Homo sapiens: one gene and its partner. The protein of the gene in region 1 interacts with the protein of each later gene in a pairwise test. Each region holds a gene or a part of one and is shown on either strand. Other genes may lie near its edges.

The links.
Region 2: the proteins of ATL1 (region 1) and PANK2 interact in binary tests that used the Homo sapiens proteins (3 or more experiments, as listed by UniProt).

The regions. Positions count from the first base shown.
Region 1 is NC_000014.9:50,583,798-50,591,280, reverse strand, and holds part of ATL1 (atlastin-1), read right to left. Parts: intron 3,451-7,483; coding exon 3,203-3,450; intron 341-3,202; coding exon 206-340; intron 1-205.
Region 2 is NC_000020.11:3,913,193-3,920,675, forward strand, and holds part of PANK2 (pantothenate kinase 2, mitochondrial isoform 7 precursor), read left to right. Parts: intron 1-3,734; coding exon 3,735-3,858; intron 3,859-4,301; exon of another isoform or gene 4,302-4,379; intron 4,380-5,478; coding exon 5,479-5,604; intron 5,605-7,483.

The DNA.
Region 1 (7,483 bases):
GATCTGCTGTTCTATCATCGTTATAATTTCGCCTACTCTGATCACAAGAAAGGGAAACAAAGATCATGCTATAGGATGCTACCCCACTTTAAGCTTCATGTCAAATGGTCAAAATTAATTTTCAAAAGTGCAACTTCAAGGATCCTAAAAAGTAGTAACTGTTATAAGTGAAAACTCAATTTTATTTAGGAAGTTAGCATCATACCTTTTTACCATCAGGTTTATTGATAAGGAAGATTTCACTCCATATCTGAATTCCTGTGGTCTCTCGCTCAGATCCACCTCTCCATGAAAAACCAGTCAATGGTTCATTGTAGTCTCCAACCCAATCAACTGATTCCTATAAAATGATAAAGTCTATGATATGGAACTTGATATGTGTATATAGTTTTTTCCATTCATTCATTCTGATTCTTATCCCTCTCCAATTCGAGTTAAAAGGAAACAACATATGCACATCTATTGCATTGATACCATCACTTTATTCATCCAAAAAATAATTACAGAGGAGCAACCATCTGCCACATTTTTGATATGTCCTGGGGATATAAAAATGAAAAGATATCATTGCAGACCAGAGGAAATTCACAGCCTAACAGCGAGACAGACATGCAAACAAACCATTATGATGCAATAAATGCATGCCAAAATGGAAGTATATATAATGCATAAATGGTAGCATAGAAAATAAATAACTAACCATTGGTCAGGCAAGACCACATAGGATGTTTGAGCTAAGACTTGAAAAATATTTAGGAATTTTCCAGGGAAGCAAATTTGGAGAAGGCATTCCAGAAAGGAAGGCAAGCAGGCAGGCAGGCAGAAAGGAAGGAAGTAGGGAGCATATTATGCTTTGGTTTTGTGGGAGGAGGAAGCAAGTAGCAGGAAGAGGCTGGACAGACAGCCAGATTCTGAAAGACCTTGTAAGGTCCTTAAGGGAGTCAGATTTTATCCTGCAGGCGACGGAAAGTTATGAAGAAGCAGAGATGAATTATCATCATAGTTGTGGTAGAAAGATACTATTCTAGAAGTAGGTAGGGCTAGTTAGTAGGGAAGGGAAATGATAGCTAGAAAAGATAAAGGTGGGGGTGCTATAATAAAGGTCAAAAATATGATTGAAGGTCTGACCAGGGCCAGGACAGCAGGAAGGAATAGACAAGTACTGATGCAAGTGGAGTTTGAGAAGCCAAAGGAAGACAGAATAGGAAAAATTATCAATTGTTTAAAGGCTGAAGATCAAGTTGGATAAGGCATGGAAAATATCCCATAGATTTAGTAAGTCAGTAATTGGTGACCTTGGTTGATAGTAGTTACCCCCATTTTGATATCTGTTACAGAGAATAAGTTATTAGTTTTTGGAAGATCTCATTAGATAATTGTCCAATCTAAAACCTTACAGTAACGAATGCAGAGGAATTTGGGAGAGGACTACTTGGACTGATAAAAAATCTACATAAACTAATTTAAAGAAAAATGTATTTAATTATATCCTATCTTGTTCTAAAAGGCATTTTAGACCGTTATCAAGAGCTTTGGTTCTTCTGTGAATTTGTTCTATTATCTGGCTCAATAACCTATTCAATCTTATTTCTTCTTCATCTCCAATACTTAATTTCCACTCTAGGGAAGAAGGTGTACACTCTGTTTAATACATATATTATACTTATTCCTCATAGTCCAGAATGTCCATTCTTCCTTTTCTGGTCCAGATCCACACATCTTCAAAATCTATTCTAACTTCCAATATCTCTATGAAGCTTTCTCCAGTTACTTTTGCCTACAATATGCCCTTCCCTGAACTACACTTAGAAATACGTCGATCAGGCTGGGCATGGTGGCTCATGTCTGTAATCTCAGCACTTTGGGAGGCCGAGGCAGGTGGATCACAAGGTTAGGAGTTTGAGACCAGCCTGGTCAACATAGTGAAACCCTGTCTCTACTAAAAATACAAAAAATTATCCAGATGTGGTGGCGCATGCTTGTAATCCCAGCTACTTGGGAGGCTGAGGCAGGAGAATCCTTGAACCCGGGAGGCAGAGGTTGCAGTGAACCAAGATTGCGCCACTGCATTCCAGCCTGGGTAACAAGAGTGAAACTCTGTATCAAAAAAAAAAAAAAAAAAAAAGAAAGAAAGAAAAGAAAAAATATATCTGTCACCATATCACCATGTAATGATGCTCTAAATATTTCACCTATTGTTATTCTGTCTCCTTGGCCAAACCATGAGATGCCTAAGTGCAAAATCTATGGTATGTTTTCTTTGGTATCCACCATAGTGCCTAGCACAATCTAGAACATTTAGCAGGTAGTCAATAAATAATTACTATTGAGGTAGAAATTGAAATTTTTCCAATAAGGTATTACCTGGAAAAATGTCTTGGGATGCATACTTCAATGAATAAATTGTGATTATTATTAATTAGCATAATAACATTTCCATAACATTCACTCTGAGTCAATGATCTACATTGAGATATTCATAAAAATCCTAAGCCTGAAAAATAACCTTGAAGGACAAGGAAAACATACCCAGCTAATTTTTGTGTGTTTTTTTTTAGTAGAGACAGGGTTTCACCATGTTGGCCAGGATGGTATTGATCTCTTGACCTCGTGATCCACCCACCTCGGCCTCCCAAAGTGCTGGGATTACAGGCGTGAGCCACAGTGCCCGGCCAGCAATTTATTTTCAAATGCATCAAAGAATAACTTGGAGTGATGGCTGGAAAGAGGGATGAATAGATGGAGTCATAAGTGATAAAGCAGGAATACTAATGTTAATGGTAGAATCTGGGTGGTGGATACCAAGATGTTTAGTATAAAATTTTTTTAACTTTGCTATATGCTTGAAATATTTCATACTAAATGTTGGAAAAAAGTGATTACAATACAAAAATTATGTGACATTTTAAACACTATAACATTTAAGTCTATAATCAGAATATTATGTGCCTATTTTTAAAAGAATAAAAATATAAGTTATATTCTAAGGGAAATGCAGCAAAGCAGCTTCAGAGAAAATTGGTCTGTGTAGTTTGGTCCCCAAAGCACTGAGGTTGGAATGGTTACACCACAGCATTTCTTTAGCTGGTTCATATATAGGGTACATAATAATAGAAATGAAAATTTTGAACACCATGAAATAAAAACATGAAGTGACAGAAGCACAGAAGAAAGAAAACTTTTTAAAGTACTTCCTGCATACCTGGTTGTACATGTATCTCAACATGAAGTCCATCAGGAATGATTTTCCTTTTCTAAATGCTCCAGCAACAGATACAGCAACAACCTCCTTGTCTCTGACAGCCTCCGAGAGAAGGATCCGATTTAATGCAGTTTCATCTAACTCAAAGGAATGGTCATCTTTGACAATGAGGACTTGGACTGGTCCTGCCTTTTTCACTGGCTCCTCCTCTTCTGAGCTCCATTCATATGTCTTTTCCGAAAATCCACCTGTTGAACAGAGCAGTGACTGGTTCAGCTAATCATCTCAAAGTGCCAAGAAATGTATATGTACCTCTTAACTCTCAAACATCCGACACAGGAGCATACTGGAATTATAAATGCTCATTTTATGCTGGGTGCAGTGGCTCATGCCTGTAATCCTAGCACCTTGGGAGGCTGAGGTGGGAGGATCGCTTGAGCCCAGGAGTCAAGAGCACCCTGGGCAACATAGTGAGATCCTGTCTATACAAAAAATTTTAAAATTCGTCAGGTGTGGTAGCACGTGCCTGTGGTCCCAGCTCTCAGGAGGCGGGGGTGGGAGGATCACTTGAGCCCAGGAGGTCAAGGCTACAGTGAGATATGATTGTGCCACTGCACTCCAGCCTGGACAATAGAGGGAGACCCTGTCTCAAAAAAGAAAAAGAAAAAAAGAAAGAAAGAAAAGAAATGTTTGTTTTAATGACATATTTTAATGTCATTCACACTATATCCCAGGAGGACTTACATTTGTTCTTTCTGATCATATGACTGAATCAAAAAAATTTTTCAAGAAAACTCTAAGTCAGTGCAGATGTCTCTGTCTGCTGAGTCAGAAAGAAAATCAAAGCAAAGCACTCTACTTTTGGAGCAGAGGAATAAAATGGTTGTAGTTCACACTTTCTTTATCCCCTAGAAATAGCTTATTTACATAAAGGATCCTTGCAATACTTTTTAAAGCTGAACATATATAGGAAGAAATACCTAGAAGGGCTCAGAATCACAGATTCTCAAGCATGCTATTGGTATTATTATAGATGAGGAAATTAAAGCCAAAGATGTGACTGACCTTGCCCAAGAGATGGAAATGGAATTTAGAAGGAAGGAAATGGTAGACTTCCTCATATAGGATTTCTATATCTTTCTCATGTTATTTATTTAATCTTTGTAATGTTCCAGTACGGTATTTATTATTATCTGTATTTTTGACACATGAGAAAATTAAGAATCTAATTAAATTTCCCAAGAGCACAACTATTAGAAAGTGACAGATTACAGGTCCAAGTTCACATGGACGGTAACTGCCAAACTGGGATTAGATTGCAAGAGTCAAAACTTTCATCCCAGATCTTTCTACTACAATAAAAAAAAAAAAATTCTGCCTCTTTGGTAGCAATCAAATAACTTTTGGACAACACATACATAGGCTCGTTTGCTTTATATCATAAGAACAGAAAGTCTATACATACACCAATTAATTCCTCAGATCAGATATATGACCTAGCCTCAAAGAAACCCTCAATAATTGCTATTGTAGAAACCTTAATCCCCAATGTTAGAGATGAGGCCTTTGGGAGGCCTTAGATTATGCTTAGATTAAGTTACGAGGGTCTCCCATCATAGAGTTAGTTCCCTTATAAGAAAATTAAGGAACCAGAGCCCCTTTTCTCTGAATTATGAGGATACACGAAGAAAGCAGTCTATGAACCAGGAGGAAGACCCTTACAAAAAAACCCAGCCCTGCTGGCAGTCTCATCTCATCCAGCTGCCAGAACTGTGAGAAATAAATGTTTGTTGTTTAAGCCACCCCAGTCTATGATTTTCTGTTACAGCAGCCCAGAGTGACTAAGACAATGATAATAATTTTGAAACAAACTGGACTCTTAAATAATCTTTTATCTAAATTTTTGAAAATATCTTTAGGTAGACATTCTTCATGATGTCTATTTGATAAGAAGTTTTATAACTAGATAAAAGCAAGGCAATCATCTCTTGGCATAATTTTAAATAAGTCTTCAGATCACATTGATATATATATATCACATTGATAACTTTATTGCTGTTCATCTATAAAATAATGCTATTGAAATACTGAAAATATATAATTTTAGTTTTGCATGAGTAGAGATAAGTATACACCACTACTTTCTGAACAATCATACAAAGCATCTAGAGACAACAGACCATTGCCTATAGCCACGAATCAGAGTTGTTCTCTCTGCAAAGTTAAGAAAAGTTGACTTTTTATCTGAAAGATAATAGCTTCTATATTGCCATTTCACAGGTGCTGGAGTCAGAGAGCCTTTGTTTAAATCCCAGCCTTACAATTTACAACATAAAGTTGTGGAAATTATTTAGCTTCCCAATGGCTCACTATGCTCCATTTTAAAAAGATTCATAATGGTACCCATATCAGAAAGCCTTTGTGAAGACTTAACAAAGTAATTTCCATTAAATAAAGATTGAAGAATCTGACAAATAGTACATGCTTAATGAATGGTGACTGTTATTAATACTATTATCTATTCATGTCTGATTACAGTCCTACCTACCACCTAATTTCAGTCTCAGTACAAAGGCCCTTTTTGAGAATAGCAAATACATATTTTATTTGATGACGCTCCTTGCCTATGATTTAATTATGATCTGAGCACACAAATGTGAATCACAGACCCAAGCTAGACATAATATTTTGGATAGAGAAACAGCTTTGGGGCAGAAAACTAGATCATAACTTTCTATAGACTGAAATAATTGTTTGCAACAAACTACACATATGCAAAAGGTACTGGAGAATGCACATAGAAATGGAATTTCTGGGTTGTAAGTTTTTCAAATATTCAACTTTAAAACATGGAGCAAAATTGTCTTTTTCTAAGTGGCTATATAAATGTTTCACTTCCGCCAGCAATTTAACATCCTATTGATCCATATCCTTTCTAACACTTGGTTTTATCTGACTTTGTTTTTGTCAGTTGCAGAGGTATAAAATGTTATCTCACTGTGGTCTTGATATACATTTCTCTAATTGCTAATAAGATAAGTACTCCTTTTATCCGTTTTTCTATTAGGTAGTTTGTCTTTTTCTTACTGATTTGTAGTTCTTTATGTATTTTGAATGCTATCCCTTTGTTAGTTACATGCATAGCAAGAGTCTTCTAGTTTCTAAGAGTTTGCCTTTTCATTTTCCTTAAGCTATAATTGATGAAAAGGCATTCTTAATTTTAATGTAATAGATTTTATTAATATTTTCTTTTATGGTTAACATTTTGTATACCATGTTTAAGAAATGATTCCACATACAAGATCTGAAAGATAGTCATATATATTCTATTTTATTTTATTTTATTTTTTATTTATTTATTTATTTTTTTGAGACAGAGTCTCGTTCTGTCGCCCAGGCTGGAGTGCAGTGGCGCGATCTCGGCTCACTGCAAGCTCCGCCTCCCGGGTTCACGCCATTCTCCTGCTTCAGCCTCCTGAATAGCTGGGACTACAGGTGCCCGCCACCTCGCATTTTTTATTTTTTATTTTTTTATTTTTAGTAGAGACAAGGTTTCACCATGTTAGCCAGGATGGTCTCGATCTCCTGACCTCGTGATCTGCCCGCCTCGGCCTCCCAAAGTGCTGGGATTACAGGCGTGAGCCACCGCGCCCGGCCAATAGTCACATATATTCTTCTAAGTTTATTTGTTTGTTGTTTTTTGAGACAGGGTCTCACTCTGTTACCCAGGCAGAGTGCAGTGGTGTGAGCTCAGCTCACTGCAACCTCTGCTTCCTGAGCTCAATCGATCCTCCCACCTCAACCTCCCGAGTAGATGGGACTACAGGCACACACAACCACCAAGTCCCACTAATTTCTGTATTTTTTGTAGAGATGGGGTCTCACCATGTTGCTCAGGCTGGTCTCAAATTCCTGGACTCAAGTGATCCACGTGCCTTGGCCTCCCAAAGTGCTGGCATTACAGGGATGAACCACGGTGCCCAGACTTTTCTATGTTTTAAAGTTTGCTTTTGATACTTAAGTTCCTAGTCCATCAGAAGTTGTTATTTGTAGGGTGGAAGATAAAAGCCATTTCTTTTTTAAATATGAGAAACAAATTTTTTCAGAGCTCTGTCAAAGCCCCTTCTTTCCTCAAGTGGTCTGCCATGAGATCTTTGTCATAAGTAAGAGTTTTACACAAACACACACCCCCACATACACACTGACTCATTTCTGAGCTCTCAGTTCTGATCCATTCATCAATTTCTCTACACCAGCACCAATTTTACACTATCCTATTCA
Region 2 (7,483 bases), on another chromosome or scaffold:
ATTTTCAATGTAGGTTTGCCTCTTCTGAACATTTCATATAAGTGGTATCATACAGTATATGATCTTTTGTGATTACTTCTTCATATAGCATATGTTTTCAAACATTCACATTACAGTGTGAATCAGTACTTTATTCCTTTTTATTGCCAAATAATATTTCTTTTTTCTGAGACGGCGTTTTACTCTTTTTGCCCAGGCTGGAGTGCAATGGCGTGATCTCGGCTCACCACAACCCCCACCTCCCAGGTTCAAGCAATTCTCCTGCCTCAGCCTCCTGAGTAGCTGGGATTACAGGCATGCGCCACCAAGCCTGGCTAATTTTGTATTTTTTAGTAGGGAAAGGATTTCTCCATGTTGGCCGGGCAGGTCTCGAACTCAGGTGATCTGCCGCCTCAGCCTCCCAAAGTGCTAGGATTACAGGTGTGAGCCACCGCGCCCGGCTGCCACATAATATTTCATTACGTGGATAATACTACATTTTATCCATTTATTGGTTGATGAACATTTGGGTTGTTTCCATTTTTTGGTTATAATGTTGAACATTTATATGTAAGTCTTTGTATGTATGCACACACACACACACATATATATATATATATTTTTTTTTTTTTTTTGAGACGGAGTCTTGGTCTGTCGCCCAGGCTGGAGTGCAGTGGCGTGATCTCGGCTCACTGCAAGCTCTAGCTCCTGGGTTCATGCCATTCTTCTGCTTCAGCCTTCCAAGTAGCTGGGACTACAGGTGCCTGCCACCACGCCCGGCTATTTTTTTTGTATTTTTAGCAGAGATGGGGTTTCACTATGTTGGCCAGGATGGTCTCGATCTGCTGACCTCATGATCCGCCCGCCTTGGCCTCCCAAAGTGCTGGGATTACAGGCGTGAGCCACTGCGCCTGGCCTGCACATATATTTCTAATTCTATTGGGTATATACCTGAGAGTAGAATTGCTGAGTCATATGGTCACTTAATGTTTAATCTTTTGAGGAACTGCTACACTGTTTTCCAAAGTGGCAGTCCCATTTTACAATCTTAGCAGTTTATGAGCGTTTATATTTCTTGTCAACATTTGTTATTATCTGTCTTCTTGGTTTTAGTTGTCTTAATAGGAGTGAAGTGATATCTTGTAGCGTTTTTATTTTTTAAGAGGCAGGGTCTCGCCCTGTTGCCCACATGAGAGTGCAGTGTTGCGATCATAACTGGCTGCAGCCTGTGTCTCCTGGGCTCAGGTGTTTCTCCTGCCTCAGTCTCCTGAGTCACTAGGACTACAGCTGTGCACTGCCTTGCCTAATTTTTTTTTTGTAGAGATAGGGTCTTGCTATGTTGCCTAGGCTGTCCTGGCCTCAAGTGATCCTCCCACCTTGGCTTCCCAACATGTTGGGATTACAGGTGTGAGCCATCACTCCTGGCTGAACATTTTTTTTGTGTGTGTGGCAGGGTCTCTCTCTGTTGCCCAGGCTGGAGTGCAGTGACACCATCTTATCTCACTGAAACCTCTACCTCCTGGGTTTTAGTGATTCTTCTGCTTCACCTCGCAAGTAGCTGGGATTACAGGCACACCTGTAAATTATGCCAACATGCCTGGCTAATTTCTGTAATTTTAGTAGAGATGGGGTTTGGCCATGTTGGCCAGGCTGGTCTCGAGCTCCTGACCTCAAGTGATCCACCCACCTTGGCCTCCCAAAGTGCTGGGATTACAGGTGTGAGCCACTGTGCCCAGCCCGAACATCTTTTCATGTGTTTACTGGCCATCTGTCTGTAGTCTTTGGATAAATGTCTGCTGAAGTCTATTGCTAAGTTTTTAGTTGGATTGTCTTTTTATTATTGAGTTCTGGATACAAGTCCCTTATTAGATACATAATTCGCAAATGTTTTGTCCCATTTTGTTAGTTGTCTTTTCACTTCCTTGATGGTGTCCTTTGCAGCATGGAAATTTTAAATTTTGATGAAGTTAATCTTATCTATCTTCTGTCACTTGTGCTTTTGGTGTTATGTGTAAGAAATCTAAGATCATGAAGAATTGCCTAATTTAAGATCATGAAGAATTGTTTATTTTCTTTTAAGAGTTTTATAGTTTTAGCTCATATATATATATGTGTGTGTGTGTATTTTTTTCTTTTTTTCTTTTTTGAGATGGAGTCTTGCTCTGTCACCAGGCTGGAGTGCAGTGGTGCGATCTCGGCTCACTGCAACCTCCACCTCCCGGGTTCAAGCGATTCTCCTGCCTCAGCCTCCTGAGTAGCTGGGACTACAGTGCGTGCCGCCACACCCAGCTAATTTTTGTATTTTTAGTAGAGACAGGGTTTCACCATATTGTCCAGGATGGTCTCGATCTCTTGACCTCGTGATCCGCCCACCTTGGCCTCCCAAAGTGCTGGGATTACAGGCGTGAGCCACCACGCCCGCCAGTTTTAGCTCTTATATTTAGCTCTTATATTTGATCCATTTTGAGTAAGTTTTTGTGTATGGTGTGAGGTAGAGCTCCAAGTTCATTTCTTTTTGCGTGTGGATATCCAGTTGTCCTAGTACCATTTGTTGAAAAGATGATTCTTTCCCTGTTAAATTCTCTTGGCCCCTTTGTCAAAAATTAGTTGACCATAGATGTTTGGGTTTACTCCTGGACTCTTAAGTTATGTTCCATTGATATATATGTCTGTTTTTATACCAGTACCATACTGCCTTGATACTGTAGCGTTGTATTAAGTTCTGAAGTAAGAAAGTGTGAGTCATCCAACTTGTTCTTTTTTCGAGATTATTTTGGCTATTCTGGGTACCTTGAGAATATGAATTGTAGGGTTAACTTGGCAAGGTCTGTAAATAAGACAACTGGGATTTTAATAGAGATTACATTGAATCTTTTGGCCATCCTAATACAAAGTCTTCTGATCCAAAAAGATGGAATGTCTTCCCATTGATTTAGATCTTTGCTTTCTTTCAGCAGTGTTTTGTAGATTTTATTGTACAGGTGTTAATACTTTTGTTAGATATATCCGTAAGTGTTTTATTCTCTAATGCTATTATAAATGAAATCATTGTCTCCATTTTGAGATCGTTTAGAAGTACAATTGTTTTTCGTATATTGGGGCACATGGCTTTTACTAATAGAAAAATCATATGTATACATGCTTGTTTACTAAGTTTTAGGCACTTGGTCAATGCTGTTGATTTTCTGTTTGTAACATTTGCTCGTTGGTCATCACTTCCTTTTCTGATTGGAAAATTATTGTAGCAGTTCTGCTGAGCATGTACTTTGAAGTACTTTATCTTCTAGGGAAACCTGAAATTCTTAAGCAGCTCACTCTGGGACTCAGCTGTCTGTGCTTTACTCTGCTCTGATAGAGCAGTTTACCAGATGTGCATGTGGCCATCTGAGTGGAACAGCTGTGCAGTTGAGATGAATTGCTGTTAGAGGTGTTGTCCTGGAACTGTCTGGTTGCAGGAGCAATGGTGCCTTCCAGTGCATCTGATGAGATTCTAACTGAATATGTGAATATCTGGTATCCAAGCTAGATTTCAGTAGAAACCGCAGGGAAAGCTGTCTGCTCATTTAGAATGTTGGAGGGCTCTGTTTGAAGTTTGCATTTCTCTTTGAACAGATGCTCCATTGCAAAATAAAAGGTTTGAAGATTTCAACAATGTTGCCCTAAAAGCTAATTTTATTTCAATAAAGTAACATTCAAGTTCTGTTGGGCTTTGTTGCTGTTGGTTTAGCAATGGGATTTTTTTTCCCCCATCACAGCTTTGGAAACATGATGAGCAAGGAGAAGCGAGAGGCTGTCAGTAAAGAGGACCTGGCCAGAGCGACTTTGATCACCATCACCAACAACATTGGCTCAATAGCAAGAATGTGTGCCCTTAATGAAGTAAGGGGACATGGATTTCTTTAATTGCTCTAAGGAAAATACTGAACTTAAGTGGGCCCCATCACGTCTGTTTTCTCAGAACAGTGCCTAAATGTAGTCATTTGGGGTGGGGTTTGTTTTAGCACGAAGTTAAAACTCTTCAAATACAGATTAATCTTCTTTTTTTTTTTTTTAAACTGAAGATAAACATTGCTACTTGTCTAGAGGTAAAATGACATCTTTTGAGGAGAAAGTAGAGGAAGAGTGGAAGGTAGCCAGTGTTCCAGATATTGGGGACTGTTGGGGGTGATGATGGATAACGATGCTGAATGTAGACTCCACACTCACTGCTGAGCTCTAGAGGCCCTAGGGAGGAATCCAGAGGAAGTCACGGAAGCTGGGAGAAGACTGAGCAGGCCGAGGGGTGCCCTCCTTGGCTCCCCCACCTCAGCAGAGCTGCGTCTTTGTGCTTTCAGCTTCTTTACAGTGCTGCCTTGTAGCATTCAGGTCAAGCAGCATTGTACAGGGCTATGAAAGAACCAAGAATGGGCTGCCCTTGGGAAAAGAGGATCTAGGATCCAGTTGGTGCAGCTTATGGCTTGTCCCTGTGTGTATAGTTGTTAAATTATTCTTTTATTTTTATTTTTAAGAAGTTATTCTTTAGATAATAATAGGCATGTAGCTTAAAAGGAAACCTCAAAAGACACAAAGGATTTGTCTCATTTTAAATTAAAAAAATACTGTATCAGCATCAAGTAATTAAACATTTGTTGGAATATCATAACTTCTTTTTTCTTTATTGTATGTTCCCTTTCCTGTGCTTACGTATTTTCAGAAATTTTAGTTGGTGTGCATACCACAATTTGTATTTTATACTTAAATATACATTTCATGGTTGTATATTTATTTGATCAAGTTCTTTTATATCAAATAACAGAGCTTGGCATTTGGTTGCTTGCTCATAACTCGGCAGTAAGCATTTTTAAGCATGAAGTTATTCTTTGGTTGAATTTTATTCTTGATATGGGGCTTAGGAGTGAGATTTCTGGTCTACAGAAATGATCATGCTCATGAATTTTGACATTTATCGTCATGATGCTTTGCACAAGGGCTGCACCAATTTAGATCATCTTTAGCGGTGAATGAGTGGATTAATTTTACTACAACTACTGATGGTGGTGGTGGAATTTCAGTTGCTTTTTTTTGCGAGGTTAATAGGTCTAAAATTTTACTTTTGTTTGATGACTAGTGGTTTGAATTTTTCGCTGCCTGTTATATTGCTTGTATACTTTGCCTGTTTGTGTCACTGTCCTTTTGGATTGGAGTCATACTGTTTTTTTTTGTTTATTTTAACTTATCTGTATAAAACATTGTATTCAAAACTAGTTATTGTTGGTCAGATTTAATACAAATGTTTTTCCTAATCTGTTTTCTTCTCCTGTGACATTATCTAGCATGCTTTGCAGTGGGTCCAGAGTTGTCTGGGGATCAAGTTTAAGTAGCCCTGGACCAACTGGACTAAATTTGATCAGCAGTCAAATTGTTGCTAAGAGCTATGCACATGGTGCTGTATTTGGGGTAGCTTTTATGAGAAAATAGAAATTAAGATGAAAACTAATTGCCTTTTTTTGGTGTGCTCAGAACATTAACCAGGTGGTATTTGTTGGAAATTTCTTGAGAATTAATACGATCGCCATGCGGCTTTTGGCATATGCTTTGGATTATTGGTCCAAGGGGCAGTTGAAAGCACTTTTTTCGGAACACGAGGTAAGCTGACTTGTTCGTTGTGGTATATTATGTACACAGAGGGCTTGTGGGTCACACTGTCATGGAACTTGAGGTAGAGGGTGGAGGTGAAATGGGCTGCAGTGTTTCTTTTGTTTTTTGTTTTTTTGAGACGGAGTCTCGCTCTGTCACCTAGGTTGGAGTGCGTGGCACAGTCTTGGGGCTCACTGCAGCCTCCGCCTCCTGGGTTCAAGCAGTCCTCCCACCTCAGTCTCTTAAGTAGCTGGGATTACAAGTGTGCGCCCCCACACCCTGCTAATTTTTGTACTTTCAGTAGAAATGGGGTTTCACCATGTTGGCCAAGCTGGTCTGGTCTCAAACTCCTGACCTTAAGTGATCTGCCAGCCTCAGCCTCCCAAAGTTCCAGGATTACAGGTGTGAACCACTGTGCCTGAACTTTTTTGGTAGTTTAATTTCGTAACATTTGAAAGCTGTTTCTTCCCTGATACTAATGCAAGGTAAATTTTGGGTTAATTTAATTGTAAGCTTAAGGAATTTTAGAGAAAAACCCTTGAACATTCCCCTATATTTCTGATGCCATATTTTTGTCTGAACTATCCTCTATATTTTTTCTATTGCACTGACTGTGTCATTACTCTGGGTTCTGGTTTTTTCATTTTTTTCAGTGCCAGTTTTTATATATTGTTGTAATTCTTGTGCCAGTTATTTAAGATGCATGTTGTAAAAATGAATAGATGAGTAAACCTCTCAGACTAGAACCATACTATCATAAGAACTTAAGTACAATTGTAGACAGGCTGGAAATGATGAAATGGAAAAGAATCAAATTGCTCAACCTCATAGCCTGTCTTGGAAAGCACTCTTATTTTTCCTATTTGGGGAAAAAGAAGCAGAGGTATGGAAAGGCGTGTAGGGGTTCTTTCTTCCCTTCTTGGTTGTGGGGCAGTTGAACTATTCTTTCAACTGTTCTTGGATTTTAGATACTGTTATTATGAACATTTTTCAGAATTGTATTGCATATTTAGTTTAACAGTCTATATGAATTAAAGGAAATCAAAGTCCAGATAATAGCACAGATTTGAAGTGCTAGAGATTACTTTTTCCTTTAAAGTTACTTTAAGTTTTTCTTTTTAAATTGCTTTAGTTCATAGTTGAAGTCCAAAGTACACAAATCCCCATATCAAAAAGCTTAAAATTGAAGTCATCTAACTTAGTTTTAAAATTCTAACATTACTGTATTTGTAAACCAGCACCGAATTGCCATTAAGTTTCTTACAGTTCATGTTTCTGTATACATCTTTTTTTGTGATCTGACTTATTTTATTTTGCTTTATATTAGAATTTTTTAAACTCGAATGTTAGATCTTTTTCTGCTTTATTTCTGCCTCTTGTTTAACCTTTTCCTAGGTAGAACATGGAGATTAGTTTTTTAAGTTAACCTTAAAAAAAAAATAGGCTGGGTGCGGTGGCTCACGTCTGTAATCCCAGCACTTTGGGAGGCTGAGATGGGCAGATCACCTAAGGTCAGGAGACCAGCCTGGCCAACCATGGTCAATGTGGCAAAACCCTGTCTCTACTAAAAATACAAAAATTAGCTGGGCGCAATGGCGGGCGCCTATAATCCCCAGCTACTCGGGAGGCTGAGACAGGAGAATCTCTTGAATCTGGGAGGCGGAGGTTGCAGTGAGCTGAGATCGCACCACTGTACTACAGCCTGGGCAACAGAACGAGACTCTGTCTCAAAAACAAAAACAAACAACAACAACAAAACAAACAAAAACACCAAACAGGCCAGGTGCAGCGGCTCACGCCTGTAATCCCAGCACTTTGGGAGGCCGAGGTGGGCGGATCATGAGGTCAGGAGTTCAAGACCAGCCTGACCAACATGGAGAAGCCCTGT